2 separate regions of the Homo sapiens genome follow, and region 2 is linked to region 1. Evidence: fine-mapped expression QTL. A gene starts in region 1. The other region holds a variant in brackets. All regions are shown on one strand. Distances are from middle to middle. Region 1 holds the start of PRANCR (progenitor renewal associated non-coding RNA). Region 2 has its middle 130 kb from the start of LINC02821.

The links.
Region 2: its variant is fine-mapped to the expression of PRANCR in testis (GTEx, PIP above 0.99).

What each region holds. Positions count from the first base shown.
Region 1 is chr12:70,239,017-70,247,356 of GRCh38, forward strand. PRANCR (progenitor renewal associated non-coding RNA) reads right to left here and starts at 4,344. Exons shown (of 5, transcript NR_120460.1): 1 at 4,296-4,344; 2 at 3,808-3,877; 3 at 3,165-3,213. It overlaps CNOT2 (CCR4-NOT transcription complex subunit 2), which reads left to right and starts at 4,417. Exons shown (of 16, transcript NM_014515.7): 1 at 4,417-4,464. RefSeq lists enhancers at 3,703-4,902, 4,077-4,276, 5,007-5,146 and silencers at 3,836-4,375, 4,447-4,706.
Region 2 is chr12:70,045,361-70,053,700 of GRCh38, forward strand. No RefSeq gene overlaps it. Among named protein-coding and RNA genes, the nearest start is that of LINC02821, 130 kb to the right of the region's middle. The variant C/T (reference allele first, on the strand shown) is at 4,344.

The DNA of each region.
Region 1 (8,340 bases):
TAGAGACGGGGTTTCACCATGTTGGCCAGGCTGGTCTCAAACTCCTGGCCTCAGGTGATCCACCCGCCTTGGCCTCCCAAAGTGCTGGGATTACAGGCATGAGCCACTGCACCCAGCCTGCTTATGACACATTTCTAAAAGAATCGCTGGGTCAAATGCACATGGCTCAAGGCTTTTGATACATATTGCCAAACTGCACTCTAGAAAAGTGCTGCCAACATACACTCTCAGCAATATAAGCAGCCCTGTTTCTCTGAATCCTTGCCAGTATTATCAAGAAATAACCACTTGTTAAAATAGTGCCTGAAGACTAAATTAATGTTTAACATGTTTTGTCACTCATAAGTTGGGCTTACTATTAAACTTTTAACTGTTATAGTATTACCATTCAAAGCTTACACATATTTAAGATGAAGAAACTGAGGTCTAGTAAATTATAATTCAGACCCCTTTTAGTGTGAATTTTAGCCCTGGATATACTGCAGTGCAGTCTTTTTTTTTTTAACTTGTACTAGCCTTACAGATTTCCCAGAAAAAGGTAGACATCTTCTTTATTAAGTTGGAGGTCAGGAATATCCTATTAGTTTAGTACTGTTTTTCCTGTTTCCTAGATTGGATTTTACAAATTTTGTGTTAAGGATATCTGTTGACATTTACTCATTTATTATTTAAAAAGTCTAGCTAATCTTGGATAAGAATTTTGTTGATTCATTCACTCACTAATTTAACAGCATTTATCTAATGCCTACCATGTGTGAAGGATAAAGTAGTGGAAAAAAACAGGTGTAGTTTATATTTTTGTAGGGTGAAGGGAGGTAGAAAATAAACAGTGAATAAACAAGATAATGATAAATTATAAATGCTATTAAGAAAATAGAGGGGCACGTGATTGACAGAGAATAAATGGGAACGTGAGCTATTTTAGATACGGTGGCCAGGGAAGGCCTGTCAGAGATATTTGGGTTAACCTGAAGGAAGAGAATGAGTCAGCCATATCCAAGACAGAAGACCACATCCCAGGCAGAAAAAAAATAAATAAATAAAAAATAAAAAGCAAGTGCAAAGGCCCTGAGACAGAGTATCAGGTAAGATTAAATTCAGTTGAGAACAAGAGACTCCAAAATAGTGGCTTTAATAATATAGACATTTACGACTGCAGGGCTAGCATGGTGCTCTGATCCATAAAGTTCTCACAGACCCTGGTTTCCACCAGTTTAGTTTTGCCATCCCTAGAATGAGAGAACTTGCATGAGGCACAAATTGGCAGCTACAGTTCTAAGCCATCACATCTATATTCCACGGTACAGGATAAAGGAAAAGCCGCATTGAAGGTGTGCACCAACTATCTTTTAAGGATGGTTTTACAAGTGTGCCACATGATATACTGCTTACATCCCATCAGCCAGCACTATTACATGGCTACAAGGAAGGCTGCAAAATATAGTCTTTGTTCTGGGTAGCCATGTATCCATGTCTATTACTATGAAAAAAATGGAGGAATTTTTGGGGACAACTAACAGACTCTGCTACAGACTAGAAAAAGCACAGCCCACGACAGAAAGGAGGCAGTAAGAAGGGTGAGAACAACTTCCTGTGCTGCTTCCTGGGAAGATGGAGAAGTGGGCAGGAGCCAGATTATGCAGTCTTGAAGGCTATGGTAAGGAATTCCGATTTCATTCTGTGTGCATAAGGAAGCTATTGGAGGGTTTTAAACAAGGGAGTGACATAACCTAATAACATTTTTTAAGTGATTGCTTTGGTTGGTATATAGAGAATGGTTTAAATGGGAAAATATTCATGAGGGTACAGATAGAAAGTGATAGCAACTAGTGTGGTTATTGCTGTGGTCCAGCAACAGATGATGGTGGCTCCCAAGGGTTGTACCAGTGGAAGTGATAAGTAGCTAAATTCAGAATGTATTTGTCAGGAAGAACTGATGGTACTGTCTGATGAGTTGTATGAGTGTGAAGAATCAGAAAATTCCAAGTTTTATGCCTGAGCAAATAAGTGAATGGTGGTACTATTTATGAAAATCAGGAATTCTAAAGGAGCAGCAGATTTAGGGAATGAACAAAGGGGATTCAAATGTTGTTTCAGACACATTAGAGAAGCCTGTCCTTTTTATCCCTTGCCATGGCAAAATTTTCAATACCATCCATATTTTTCTAAAAATGGGTGGCCTCCTTCTTCTACAAGTTATACACAAACTCATTCTTCCCTTAATAGGGTATTTTTTTTCCCTCAACGTCTGTAATTTTTAAATAAAGTGTACAGAGAATTTAACATAATACATATTTTGGAAATATACAAAACATGTGCCTATTAGTAAGGACTACTTTTCAGGTAAAAGTAAGAAAATCTAGTAAGATAGTTAAAAGAAACCAAACTACCAAATGGGCAAACTTAATCAACATTACCAATAAAGATGAACTTTTTGATGCAACAGGACAATTTAAAAAATATACCATCTATTGGTAAGAACTCTTACTATAAGAATTCTTACTATACAAGCCTTTAACAAATGCTAGCTCATTAAATACCTAGAGTACCCTCTAAGGTAGGTATTAAAAATTTTTTAACAAATTTATAATAGATTTGGCACAAATAATAGGACAATTAAAGGCTTGTTCTTCAACCCGGCTTAAAGTGAATTCATCCTAAACAAATAGGTGTTCAGTGAGAGTCAAAGTAAGTAGTATCAAATATTGAAAGTAATAGTATCAGTGTATTTTCTCCTAACACTCCTAACCCACACATTTATTATGAAAATGTTTGTTGTTCTATCTCTTCCAGTAAAATACTCAAGGTAATAAAACTCTCATATCAGACTTACACCCTCTGGAAGTCATTCCATAGAGGTATATTCAATCTTTTAACACACCATCTTATGGTTGAAGATGTTAACATGAGAAGGAGGAGAAAGCAGGAAGAGGAAGGGACTATTTGCAGAAGACGGGGAGAAAGAAAGGAAAGACACTAGTATGTGTTGTTCCTCCTCGAATTTTCCTGAAGTGAAAAAAAAACAGTGAAGTAGAGTGTTTGATGAAATGAATAACCAAGCAAAACATTTTCTACCTACACCAGTACCACTAGGAGTTGAAATAAATTCACACAATGTCTGCTGATATGTCAAAACACCTTACCTTCAAAAACATGACAGTTACCTTTTATTTTATAGTATGCTTGTGTTTCTTCCTATTTCTTGCTTTTGACCTTCAATGATAAATGTAAACTGGATTACAGTGATTCTTTTGTAAGTAAAAGGTGACTTTTTAAAAGAAACAACCAATGGAAATAGAAATTTTATTTACTTCAAATTAACTGTACTTTACTCAAATAGAAAAGAATAATTTTCACATTATGAAGCTACACAATTCCAAAATACACATGCTGAGGCTCTTTTTAAGTCCGAATTGTCTAGTAATTACAAAAAAGTGAAGAGTTTACAGATATACAAGGAAATAAAGGCGAATTATTGCAAAGAAAACAAGTTTAATTTCACTTTGAATGACAACGATTTTTCTGGAAAGCAGATACTTCACTCCTTTAAGTTTCCACCCAAGCCACAATAATTTCAAACGGTCTTGCGGATGACCCAGCTGGTCACTCTTGTTTATGTGGGGACTGGAGGTAATGAGAGCCAAAAAAAGTGCTATAAACCTAATTTGGCTAGAGCAAGTTCACACGACACGACCGTGCTTTAAAAACTTGCTCTCCATTATGTACTTCCTTCCATCAGGTTGGGGAAAAAAAAATGGTGGGGATGGTGAGTAAACACACCAGTGGTTTCATCAGAGGGGAACTCACTACTCAGGAGGTGACGGTGACGTGGTGCCGGTCCCTGAAGTACGCGCACAAGCTCCGGAGGTTGCGGGAGCTGAGGGAGGAAACAGGGACACGATCAGATTCGCTCCAGGTGGCGGGAGTGAGGAGGGGAGGAGTGACGAGGCGGACGTGCGGGGGCGGGGGTGTCCAACACAAACACAAACACAAACACGAACACGAACACGCTCAGCGTCCCCGGGGAGGGCGGACTGAAGCCACCTCACCATTCATCGCCCCTGGACCCCGCAGTCCCCCTCGGACTCAGGGCCAGAGCCTTCTGCGAAGCAACCTAGCCCCAGGGAAACGGTAGCGGCCGCAGAAGCCCCGCTCTCTGTAACGGCCGCGGAGGAGCAGCAAGCCTCCCTGTGAGTCGGTGGGAGACAAGACGGAGCGGCGGTAAGGGCGGTAGGGAAGTGAAGCGCCTCTCTCCACCTTGTTAGAAGCGCGCTGAAAGCGGCCTGCCTACCCACCCCATCGCTGCCGTTTTGCAGTCGTCGCTCCCACCTTCCGCTGCCGCCTGGAGGGAAGCCGGAGCGACGGGGGTCACGGCGGCGGTCAGAGGGTAAAGGTCTTGCTCCCAGCAGCCTCCGCGGTGGATACGTCGCCATCTTGGATCCGCGGGACAAGAAAATTCATGCGGTGAGTTTTTGGTAAATTTTCGGAAGTCTGGCAGCGGGGCGCGCGGCGGGGGCGGCAGATTCGGGGCCCCCGCAAGGCGGGGGAATGCCCCGGGGCCGGTCCGGTCGCGCCCAGGGTCCGCCGGTAGCGTCCCGGCCCACCGCTTCCCGTTGCTTTTGTCTCGGCTCCAATCGAGAGACGGAGAGCGGAGCGGGCGGGGAGGGGGGTGGCGGCGGTGGAGGGAGGGAGGGGGTGTGTATGGGGGTGGTGGTGGACCGGACGTAAAGCGTCGCTGTACTCGGGCCGCTGCAGCAGCAGCAGCTCCAGATCCTAGGCCCGGTCCCATCCGCGAGTGGTGGGGCTTCCCCAGACTCCACTCCCCTAGGCTCCCGCCAGCGCGGAGGAGCCGCTGCCGCCGCGCTGCTTCCTGGGGGAGAAGAGAAGGCGGCAGCGGCCGTGGCCGTGGCCGACGAGCTCGAGCCCGCTTTAGACGGCTCTGCCGCCTTCCCGGCAGCTGGTGCTGTCTGTGGCTTCTTACCTTCTCTCAATACACGTATATCATCTGCCAGTTATGTGTATTTCTGTTAGTGTGTTTGCAAGTGTCAGATGGGAGACACTGGACTGGCTAACGGGTGTCAGGATCCTGCAGGCCCTGGGATACCGAAGGCTGTGCATGGTGGAGGGAGAAGGAATGCAACTGCGATGCCGCCTCTGCCACCGCACCAGGAAGGTGAAGCTTCCGTAGTGTCGTAGACTGAGTCCGGATGATCCTGGGGCGGCGGAGGAACCACAGACGCTTCTGTCTGTGAAGTTGCAAGTCCTGGGTTTCTACTTCCGCAGGGGCCTCTCCACCTTTTGCTGTCGTAGGTCTCGCTTAAAAGTTTAACAGAAGAAAAGAGTAGGGTTAAAAGAGGCCTTTGTAGTTCTTCATTGAAGCACTGTTGTCTGTCCGGGTGAAAGCTGATAACTCTTGGTAACTGTGGTCCTTAGCAAAAGAGAATTGGAGTTTTCTTTTATACAAAGTATTTCCAAGGTTTTAGACCTTATATTTATTCCAGGCCTGTAGGTACGGTATTACTACCACAAAAGTCTTACATTAAGGGTACCACCCTCTCAGAGGGAACCTAAACATCAACTTCCTTCGAATCCTTGGAGACATCTTCACTTTTCAACATCCGGAAGACTGAGTGCAACATATTTTGTTTCATTTTCATAAAAGTCTTGGTCAGAGAATCCCACTCCTTTTAAAATCGTTTGGGCAATTCCTCATAATTAAGTACACTGCTTTGAACCCTTAGTTCTTGGCGAAATGGTAAAAAGTACTCAGTTAAAATCAGTTCACGAGGGAGGCCAACTTGAATTTAAGGTTCAAAGTTGAACATATTTAGTGTCATGCTTAATATTAGGAATTTTTAGAGCTCGGAATCATAAGTGTGACTGTTGATTTCCCTTTTGAAGCAATATAAATGGAAAGAATAAAGTATGGGGTGAGGGATGAGATAGAAATTTTAAAGTATCCATTTACATGCAAGGTTGATGTTGAGTTTGGGAATGCTTGGCATAATTGACAACAGTTCTTTCCAAACGTCAATGAATAAATCTCACAATTTTGTAAGGTAACTATTGCAGATTGAAAGGGTTAAGAATCATAGTTGGCTGAAATGGTTAAGTGTCTATATTCACATCCCAGTTCATTGAAATGTTTTATAATGGACCAAGATAATTAGTAAGCTCTGTATGTTGAATTTGTTTAGTTTGTAGTTCTATTATAATGTTAAATCTAAAGAAAAAAATACAAAATACACTTAAAGACAAAACATGTTCCACTCTACTCACTTATTTCTTGACTTTGTAAGATCCTTACTGTAAAAAAGGTACTTTTCTCTCATATTTTCTGAGAGCTTGAATTGTAATAATTTTTGTGAATACTTTGTATTTTAGAGAGGAAGTGAGAAACTGCTGAAGTTTTTTTTGCATCTTGATTAGTGCTTTATCAATACAAATAAGTTAATGTAAACATTTGTTGGCAGGAATCTTTTTCTAAGTATACAATGTAGAGATATCTGTAACCTAATCTGATCTCAGGGAATGAGAATTGCCTGTTTAACCAAGCAACAAATACAGCCTATACAATTTTTCAATTTCTATAATACTTTAATTTACATGGTGGAAAAATGAGGGCAAAATGCTTGTGTATGAGTGATTTATATCCCCAAGTACCTGCTCTTGAAGATAAAACTCAGATTGTGGCTTATCTTCTGATGCTGGGCAAAAAACAAAAACAAAAAAATTCAGAATGATACAACTTCCCATATACCTCCCTACAAGAACTAATTACCTTTGTTTTTGCTTTATAACTTTGGATGTTGCACTTTTTGATTTTTCAGAGATGCTTTACAGTTATTGTAATCTGAAAATTATTTGTTCAAAAGTAAATAAAATTTTCAGGTGTATGAATAGATTTTATTAGAAGTGATTCTAACCCAGTTCTCATTTGTATTCCTTTAGTAGATACTGGTGTTAAAAGTACCTGTATTTTGAAAGACCATTACAGAATTTTTTACAACCTGTATAAGTTATAGTTTTATCTTTTCTAGTGACAGACTTACTTCATAAGATTTTCTGATAATATGAATAAAATGTATGCTTCACATGTATATATGAAATAATGAGTAAGCATTAATAGACCAATGAAAAGAACTTAGCTTACAATTTATTTTCTTGCTCTTTAAAAGCAGTGGTAAATAATAGCTTTTTTTTGTTGTTAAAATTTGTAACTGTAGAAAGTTCATTCTGTTGGGATCACATATTTGAAGGCAAACTAACAATGCCATGTGCTTGCTTGAATAGGCATTTGAGGACAGGTTATTTTCCTGAGATTTCAGGAAAATATACCACCAAACATTTATGATGTTATTTGTTACCTGGATCTGTAGTGGATTTTGTAACACAAAGAGGCAGAATATCCAGGGTACCAGGTAGGGCAGTTTAGGGGCAGAGTTAATATGAGGTGTACTGTAATGTTTGAGTGGAATTACATACAGTGTTAATCAAGAGATCTAGTGCTATGGTAGAACTTATTCTGCTTGATGATACAGGTGACTGTTCTTCCTTACTAAGAGCAGTTTCTACCTGTGATACTTAAAGGGATTGAATTTCACTGTGACTTATATCAGATATTTTGAAAAGAGCTGTGCTAAAGTTGATGTCATTGTAGAAAGTTTGCCTTGAAGTGGAATGAAAGTTAGGTTTTTATTTCTTTGGTTTTTCTGTTTGACATCCTTTGATTTCTATTTTAGAATTCAACTCTTATGACTAATCATGCTGATGTGGTTTGTTCATTTATTTTCTTTGTCTATACTATTAGGAATGTCCTGGAAATAGAATTTGTACTGTGTTTTCTGAGAGCTTGTTCTCTGAAATACAGATGCAAATCTGTTGGTATCTGTTGGTATATCCCTTGGGGGTGTGCTGCATTATAAAGTAATAAAACAGTTTACAATGTTTGCTTTTTGTCAAGAGCTTATGACATATAATATGGAAATACAAAAAAGTGAATTATTTAGGAAAAAATGGGAAATTTTTCCTTTTCTGGGCACTTCAGGGTTTTGTATATGCGTAGACTCAGGATCTAAGTCCACTTAGATATATAGTTAGATATTTTGGACTATTTGCCACTTAACCCTGCACATTTTCTTTTCCTTATTCTTTTTTTTTTTTCTTTGAGACGAAGTTTTGCTCGTCGCTGAGGCTGGAGTGCAATGGCGTGATCTTGGCTCGCTACCACCTCCGCCTCCCGGGTTCAAGCGGTTCTCCTGCCTCAGCCTCCTGAGTAGCTGGGATTACAGGCATGCACCCAGCTAATTTTGTATTTTCAGTAGAGACAGGGTTTCACCA
Region 2 (8,340 bases), 190 kb before region 1:
GCTTCTCTGTTTCTTATCAATTTATGATCCTTTAGAAAAGAATAGACCAGGTGAATTGTAACCACAATCACACCCCTGTGATACACAGAGGTGTCATTAAACAATAAGGATCTTGTCCCAGCCAATTATCCTAAGATCAAAATAAAGAAGGGGGTTAGCACTATGTTCTCTCCAAAGCCAAAAATCTCTAAAGCCGCAGAGGAGAGAGCACCACTGCTGGAGAGGCGCTCCTTACCCAGAATGAAAACTGGGAGGAATCTTCTAGCTTCCTCCTTTTACCCACCTTCTGATCTCCTACCAGTCCTTTCTATTGGCCAAACATAGCAAAGCCACCTCACTCCTGCAGGTTGAGTCAGGCCCCAATCACACCAGCCTACCAGGAGCAGGGACGGGCAGGACAGGATCTGCGGGCCAAAAGGAAAACATCTGATAAGTAGGCCTTCCTTTCAGTTCCTTGAAAATGCCAAGCTCTTTCCAATGTCAGGATATTCATATATTCCATGTCCTCTTTCTATAATTCTTTTCCCACCACTATTCACCTCTTATCATTCTTCAAGTCCCAGTTTAAATATTACTTCCTCAAAAAGACCTTCCTTGACTACCTGTGTAAAATAGATCTCCTCTGTTATTCTTTCTTTAAAACCCTCTCTTCTTGCTAACCTTTATAATTATATACATATCTTCTAATTATCTGTTTAATGTCTACCTATCCAGGGGCTAGGAATATCTGTTTTGCTTTCTACTGCATTGTCAGAATCTAGCACAGTGCCTAGCCTATAAAGAGTGCTTAGCACTAAGTAAATAGTAACTATAATTATTACTATCTTTTATTTTTAATAATAGTACCATAATTGGATAATCAGTGAGAGATGTCAGCCCATTCTGAAATATATGTTAATTTCTTTCTGATGCTGTTGTTTTCTTCCTAATATTTAGTAAACACAAGTTGAATGTTTCAGTTCCATGAACACTTTTTAGACATTACCTAGAATACCAAATTTCCATATCTTGAGGCTTCAAAGACCATTAGGGAAAAATTGATACATTCCTTGAACTGTTAAAACAAAAACTATGTTGGCAAACTTGGAATAAACGAATTCTTTTCATCAAATAATCTGTAACTGAAAAGAGAAAAATGTGTACAGTAGAGCAATTTATCATCTGCAAAATCTCTTTATGCTTCACACATTCTGGTTTGGATCTTTTGATTTTTGTTCTTTAAATCTACTGAATGATAAATTTTCCTTGTCATTTCATAGGAGACCTTCATTATTTTTCTCCTACCATCAGTTTATTTTTTTCTCAGTAAAATTCAGCTCCCTTTTCTTTCTTAGCATTTTAACCTACCTGCTTCATGTGGGATAAAGAAATGCCCCATCTTTCACAGATAAAATAAATCTCCACATAAACGGTGACTGTTTTGTCTTTAGAGACTTTGTCTCCAAAATTTCCCACATGTGCCACAATCTTCTTAAGTTATCATACAGAGAACAACTCCTGCAATCGTGGGAAGTGAGGAGTTTGGAGGGCAACAGGTTGGCAATGGGGCGACTGAGGTGACTGTCTTGAGCAATCACCACGTATGGAGCTAAAGAGTCTACTTCCAGGTTCATTTCTGCCATTAGTCTAAGATTCATTTATTCATGAAACATTTATCAAGTGGCTACTGTGTGTTAGACGCTATGCTAGGGCTAGAGATGCATTACGGATAAGCTGTGGCTCCTGTTCTCAGGGAGCTCATTGTGTAGTATAGGGAAACAAGAAAGTAACAAATATTTACAATTTGTGATGTTTAATGCTTTAGGGAAAGTAACACAAAGCACTATGGGAAAATATGGAGGATCCCTAACCCAATTTTGGGCAGGTGTGAGGGTGGGGATGGTACAGCAAAGGCTTTCTGGAGAAAATGATGCTTGCGCTGAAAGATAAGTCTGGATTGCCCAGACAGACAATAGAATAATGTTCCAGAAAAGGCAAACAGTGCTTGCAAAAGTTCACAGCAATGTGTTATTGGTGAATTATAAGTAATTTAGGGCCAGGTTCAGGACAGGGAAGGAAGTGAAAAATGAACTGAAAAAATGAGCAGATGTTGAGAGGTTTTGCATCAGGTGAGAATTTGTTCTTTATCATCAGGTCCTTCTGCACTAACCCAGGTTAAAAGGATTGATGACAGACAGTGGAAAGAAGAGGGACTTTTGGAGTCAGACAACTTGAGTTTGAAACTTGGTCTTGCCACTAGTTTGTAATCTCGGTCAAAATTTCTTGGCCTCTCTAAGCCCTAGTTGCTTTAGCAATACAAAAGGTAATAATGTGCTCTAAAGGATTATCATTAGGGTTAAATAATACATGTAGCATCAGCACATTGCATGATGCCATGTTAAATCTCAACTATTATAAAACAAATTGCTGTAATCAAGAATATCCACACAGAGCTTTGAGTCACATACTTAAGTGAACACAAACTAGAATCTTGTTACCAGAGAGACATTTGTCTGCCTGAACCTGTTTGGATCTTTTTGTTTTGTTTATTTGGCACTGTGTTTTTAATGGTGGTGTATATTTCACAATTTGGTGCTATATCACTGCTTAATAAATGAGTTATCTAGAGTGAATTATTATGTCTTCAGACTTAATCATGCTTCATTTCCTTCATGCCATAGAATTTTTGAGCTAAAAGAGGTTACAGAACTAATCTCTGGAAGCTGGAGAAAAAGCACAATGTTGGAATAGAAATATGTGCTAAGAGCAAACAAATTGAGTATCCATCAGGAGGGAAATAGTTAAATAAACTTATATTTCTATGCTACGAAATACTATGCACCAGCTAAAAGGAATGAGATTGCTCGCTGTGTACTGACATAGCTAGAGCTCCAAAACCTATTGTCAAATGAAAAGCAGGCTGCATAAAGATATCTTCAAAATGACATTATTTTCATACAAAAATATACACACTTGTATAAGTAACATTATATTACTTCTATATGTGCTTATATATGCTTTCTAGGTTACATGTATATAAACACATAGAAAAACTTGAAGTATATACACTAAAATTATAAGTGGCTATTTATTGTCACTTGAGAAAGTTTGTTGGGGCAAGGGGGTAGTATTCCAAGGAGACATTAGCCTTTCAGAAACATTTAAATTTTTTACAGATAATATACTCTTGCTGTTTGTGTAATTCAACATTTGTTTTCAAAAAAGAAACATGGAAAGAGCAAGGGCTTTGAGGCTGGCTGAAACTGGCTCAAACCCTGGCCTCAGCAGCTTGTTAACTCTATGACTTTTGGGAAAACATGACCCCTCTGTCTCAGTTCCTTCATCAGCAAGATGAGGATAGAGCACCTGTCTTGCAGGTTTGCTGCAACAACTGAAAGTAAACCTCCTTGTACATTATTAGCATTCTGTGCATTAGTGGTTTCTTTCCCCTGTGCTGAATGCAATGGCTTTTTTCTTCTTTCTTTAAAAAAAATTTTTTTTTTTTTACAAAATAGGAAACCAAATACAAAGTGGCTAAGTCACTTCCACAAAGCCATACAGCAGTTTAATGTGAGAGCAAGGGGTATAATCCATGTGTCCCACATTATAATAAAGTCAGCATTACACTCTATGGGGCTTTGGGTTATGATGTGTATATGGCTGTTTATAGTAGTAGTTCCAAAGCTCAGATTCCAGGTGGCAGGTTTATTTGCTGATTTGTCATGCAGAGTACCAGATTCTGGGCTTGGGCAACTGTTGAACAAAACAAACCAAGAAAGGCCAGGCAAGGTGTGTTGGGTAGACCTCCGAGGTTATATCTGGCATGACTGTTCTTTTGACCTTGCTGTCAAGGAAATCTAGCAGTAGATATCAGGGGCCTCACTACAAGAAAAACATTGGTATCAGGCAATAAACTAGTTAGCACGAAAGGATGTGGGGTCAAAAATGGACATCTGACATTCTTTTTGACCACCTAGAATCTGAACCCTCTTCCTATGTTTGGGTAATTTTTCGACTTTATGAGGCAGAGATTGACACCCACTATATTAGTTGAAAATGACAGCTAATTTTCCAGCTGCCTTTGCAGCTAGGATATAGTCAGATGGCCTAGGCTCTAGCAATCAGAAGTACCTTCCTTATCAGAGTCCACTTTCTTTAGAATGACAGGGATTATTTGCAGGCCTATGGTGAGTACCCACCAAGGGCTTTTATTACTAATTTTAACTGAAGCCCTGAATTTTAATTTTAACTGTATTTTAATTCTAAACTATTTCGTGAATGCAAAACAAAGGGGATTTTGCTTTCTGATGCCATTGCATAGGAGCAAGATGCTCTATCAGACTCTATGCAATGGCACTCTGTGC[C/T]ATTGTATGCAGTTCAATGATCTTTACCCAGATGAAACCACACCGGAGGAGGTTACAACTCCTGCTCCAGGAAAGAAGGTGTATTTCCTGGGAACCTCTAAGAACTGGTTGAACCTGCTGGTTGACTTTCTTGGAAGAATGAATGACTAAGTGAACATTTTCATATTTCTCCCCTTTTTGTGCTTTGTAATTGCTGCTTGTCCAAAGTGCCTGAAGACTCTGCTTTCTGGACTAGGGCATGAGAACTTACTTCAGTGCCTATGTAGGACTGCAAGCTAAGCTGCTGCATCTTAGCCTTTAATAGGCATCCCAACTACTTGTAACATGCTAGAACTGTGTGGCTCCTTTCTGTCCTGCAGAAAAGAAGGACTCATGTCTGACACCTCTGAGGCCTCAGCCTCACCCATTTCCTGTTTCGATACCACTAACACCATCAGTTCTATATTGGCTCCCAGTGGCTTTACATACGTATATCTCACCCCAAGCTGCACCATACGCCTCTCACCTCCCACCCTAGGGAGGTGTTAGTGCTAAGATATGGAAGCCACAGATGCTGCTTATGGCCTACACATGTGAAACCCTGAAGGGCAGGGAGTTAGTATCCCATGAGGTAAACTTTTGATTTTAAAAAGTCAGCTGGTACATAAGTTCTTCCCCTTTTCTCCCTCTAGATGGACTTTTTTGAGATGCAGTTTATGTGACTTCTTGCTGGACGATCCTGTGATTTTTTTCAGTAAGTCTCAGTAGCTTCACACTTGATCATGTGGTCTCATATTGGCTTCCCCTTTCCTCCTTCTCTCCCGTTGTTTTCTCATACCTGGAAATGCATCTCCTAATAGAGTAGAAGTATTATACCATAAGCTCATTGTCTCAGGCTCTGTTTTCTGGGTAACCCAAGCTAAGGCAATACCACATAATTCTATAAACAAAATTAGGCCAGTTTTGCCATCTTTGGGAGTTTTTCCTCACTTGGGAATCCTTTCTGAGTTTTCACTCAGTTATATCCTAAATGTGTGACTTTGGGAAATTTGCTTAAGCTCTCTGACCCTCACATTCTTCAAGATAACATAATAATGATGCTTGTTTCATGAAAGAAGGGATTAAAAGAAGACTGAAGATCACTTAGTACAGTGCCTGACATGTAACAAATGCTCATTAAATGTTATTATTATTATTATAAAATCAATCATATGTGCAACTTGATGAAGCCCTGGGGGATGAAAAAGGGGGGCTCATTGGCAGACAATTTAAGCAGCTTGGAAACGTATGTTGGCATACCTGTGAGCACATATGATAATATTGCATAATGAATCCTCTAAGTTCCATTCTATTGTCAAAAAAATTTGTTTCAGAAATGGAGCTACAACTTATTCCAGAGTTAGACTTTTGTGGCCATGGTGAACACGATCCTTTTAAATAGAGAGAAGGGCCTGGGTAAGTTTAAACTGAATTAGGTTCTCAGTTCTCCCAGGCTTTGACTTTGTCATCTGTCACTTCCCTCTCAAAGGGCTGGCAAAGCCCAGGGCAGTTCAGGATTCTCTCATCTGAAGTTCTGTCCGTCGATTCTGAGGGGAGTCTGGGGCTGCTGACAGTAGATGGCCTGCCTCTCACATCTCACTATTCTTTGATCTCACAGTTACAATTGTGTTGCTTTTGGTTTTTACTTGCTGATGAAGAGTTTTTTATTATTTTTTATATATATATTTTTTATTATACTTTAAGTTCTAGGGTACATGTGCACAAGGTGCAGGTTTGTTACATATGTATACATGTGCCATGTTGGTGTGCTGCACCCATTAATTCATCATTTACATTAGGTATATCTCCTAATGCTATCCCTCCCCCCTCCCCCCACCCCACAACAGGCCCCGGTGTGTGATGTTCCCCTTCCTGTGCCCAAGTGCTCTCATTGTTCAATTCCCACCTATGAGTGAGAACATGCGGTGTTTGGTTTTTTGTCCTTGTGATAGTTTGCTGAGAATGATGGTTTCCGGCTTCATCCATGTCCCTACAAGTTTCAGTAGCTGATTCGATCAGCTGGAAGAAAGGGTATCAGTGATTGAAGATCAAATGAATGAAATGAAGCGAGAAGAGAAGTTTAGAGAAAAAAGAATAAAAAGAAACTAACAAAGCCTCCAAGAAATATGGGACTATGTGAAAAGACCAAATCTACATCTGATTGGTGTACCAGATGTACACCAGATGTGTACCAACTGGGGAGAATGGAACCAAGTTGGAAAACACTCTGCAGGATATTATCCAGGAGAACTTCCCCAACCTAGAAAGGAAGGCCAACATTCAAATTCAGGAAGCACAGAGAACGCCACAAAGATACTCCTCGAGAAGAGCAACTCCAAGATACATAATTGTCAGATTCACCGAAGTTGAAATGAAGGAGAAAATGTTAAGGGCAGCCAGAGAGAAAGGTCGGGTTACCCACAAAGGGAAGCCCATCAGACTAACAGCTAATCTCTCGGCAGAAACTCTCCAAGCCAGAAGAGAGTGGGGGCCAATATTCAACATTCTTAAAGAAAAGAATTTTCAACCCAGAATTTCATATCTAGCCAAACTAAGCTGATGAAGAGTTTTACGTGAATTTAATTTTCTTCTATCTCTGACTGCCAGAGACTTTGGTGTTTGTATTATTCACAGGGAACTAGATAAACTATAACCATTTTTTATTTTTATTTTATTTTTTTGCTGAGTGTAGTTTCTCACAGTAGCGGGAAGCCAGAATGATTTGTACGTTACTAAATCTTGGGCTTTGCTTAACATGTAATTCTATGGCCAGTGAGAACAAGTAAGGTCCTAGTATTTCAGAACTTCTCAAAGGAAATTAACTAGAATGAAAAATTACACTGTTCAGCAACAAAACCTAGCAATTGCTTAATGAATATTCTCAGGAAACAGAATATTGAGCCCTCCTTCAATCTCATTTTTGTCCTCTGAGTCTGGAATTCTTGTTAAATTAACTTTTGGTATGTGTTTCTCTTTGGTAATGTAGCAAGTGCAAAATGTCCCTCGTACTCTATACAAATGTGCAAAGCAGATGTAGTTTCCTTGAGTACCTCTTAATTGATGTTCTCTCCCTGATATTTCCTTAGCCTGCTGGATAACAGAAAACTAAAAACCAAGTTTTAGGCTAAGTGTGGAACCTTGGTCTGGTCCAATCATTTAAAGTCTATTTAGGGAGTTCAATCTCTGGACAGTAACTCACGTAAATGCTAAATGTTTCAGTGCTCTTTTTTTGCTTCTCTCCAAGATGATGTCTAGGGTTGGGGAGTAGTATAGGCAGGGTTTATGCGTCAAGATGGGTGTCCCCAAATCTATGTAGGGCTCTGACCTCATGGCTTCAGATGTACAGTGGCTGGAACAATGGCAGGGCAACCCTTATCTGGTAACTGAGTAAGGTGGGGTAGAAAGGCTTTGCCAATTCAGCAGATTGCAACACAATACCGATGAGTCATTCTTACTCCAGAATTTCTCTTCGGGTTAGCTGAGGCTTTGTTGGATTGCATCACAGTTCAACTTCGCCCCTTGACCAGTCCTGCTTCCTCCCTCTTTTTTTCACAGGTATTACACCCAAACTCTGTCTCAAAAAGCCAACTCACAAAACTCATCAATTCACCTGTCTTCTGCCACTGCCTTCATACCATCCCTACACATTGTGAGGAGCTAACTTTGAAGGCTGTTTCCAAACACTCTTCTTTGGAAGACAAAGTCTTCCTCTGTTCAAAGGATGTATGGCACTATTCCCAGTGCTCTTGTCCTCCTTTTCCCATTTGGGTAATTTTAAAAGCAATCCCTAACCTCTTCTCAGAGCCTGTCATTGAACGAGGACAGGACAGGGACCCTGGCCTCTCACCTCCTTGATTTCTACCTCTCTCTCTTTCTTAGTATTCTCTAAATTCCTCACGTCGGAAGGGAGTAGCCTTTCAGTTTCTCTTCACCTCTTTTCTCTTCTTCATCCTGGACATAGAGTAAAATTCTCTGATCT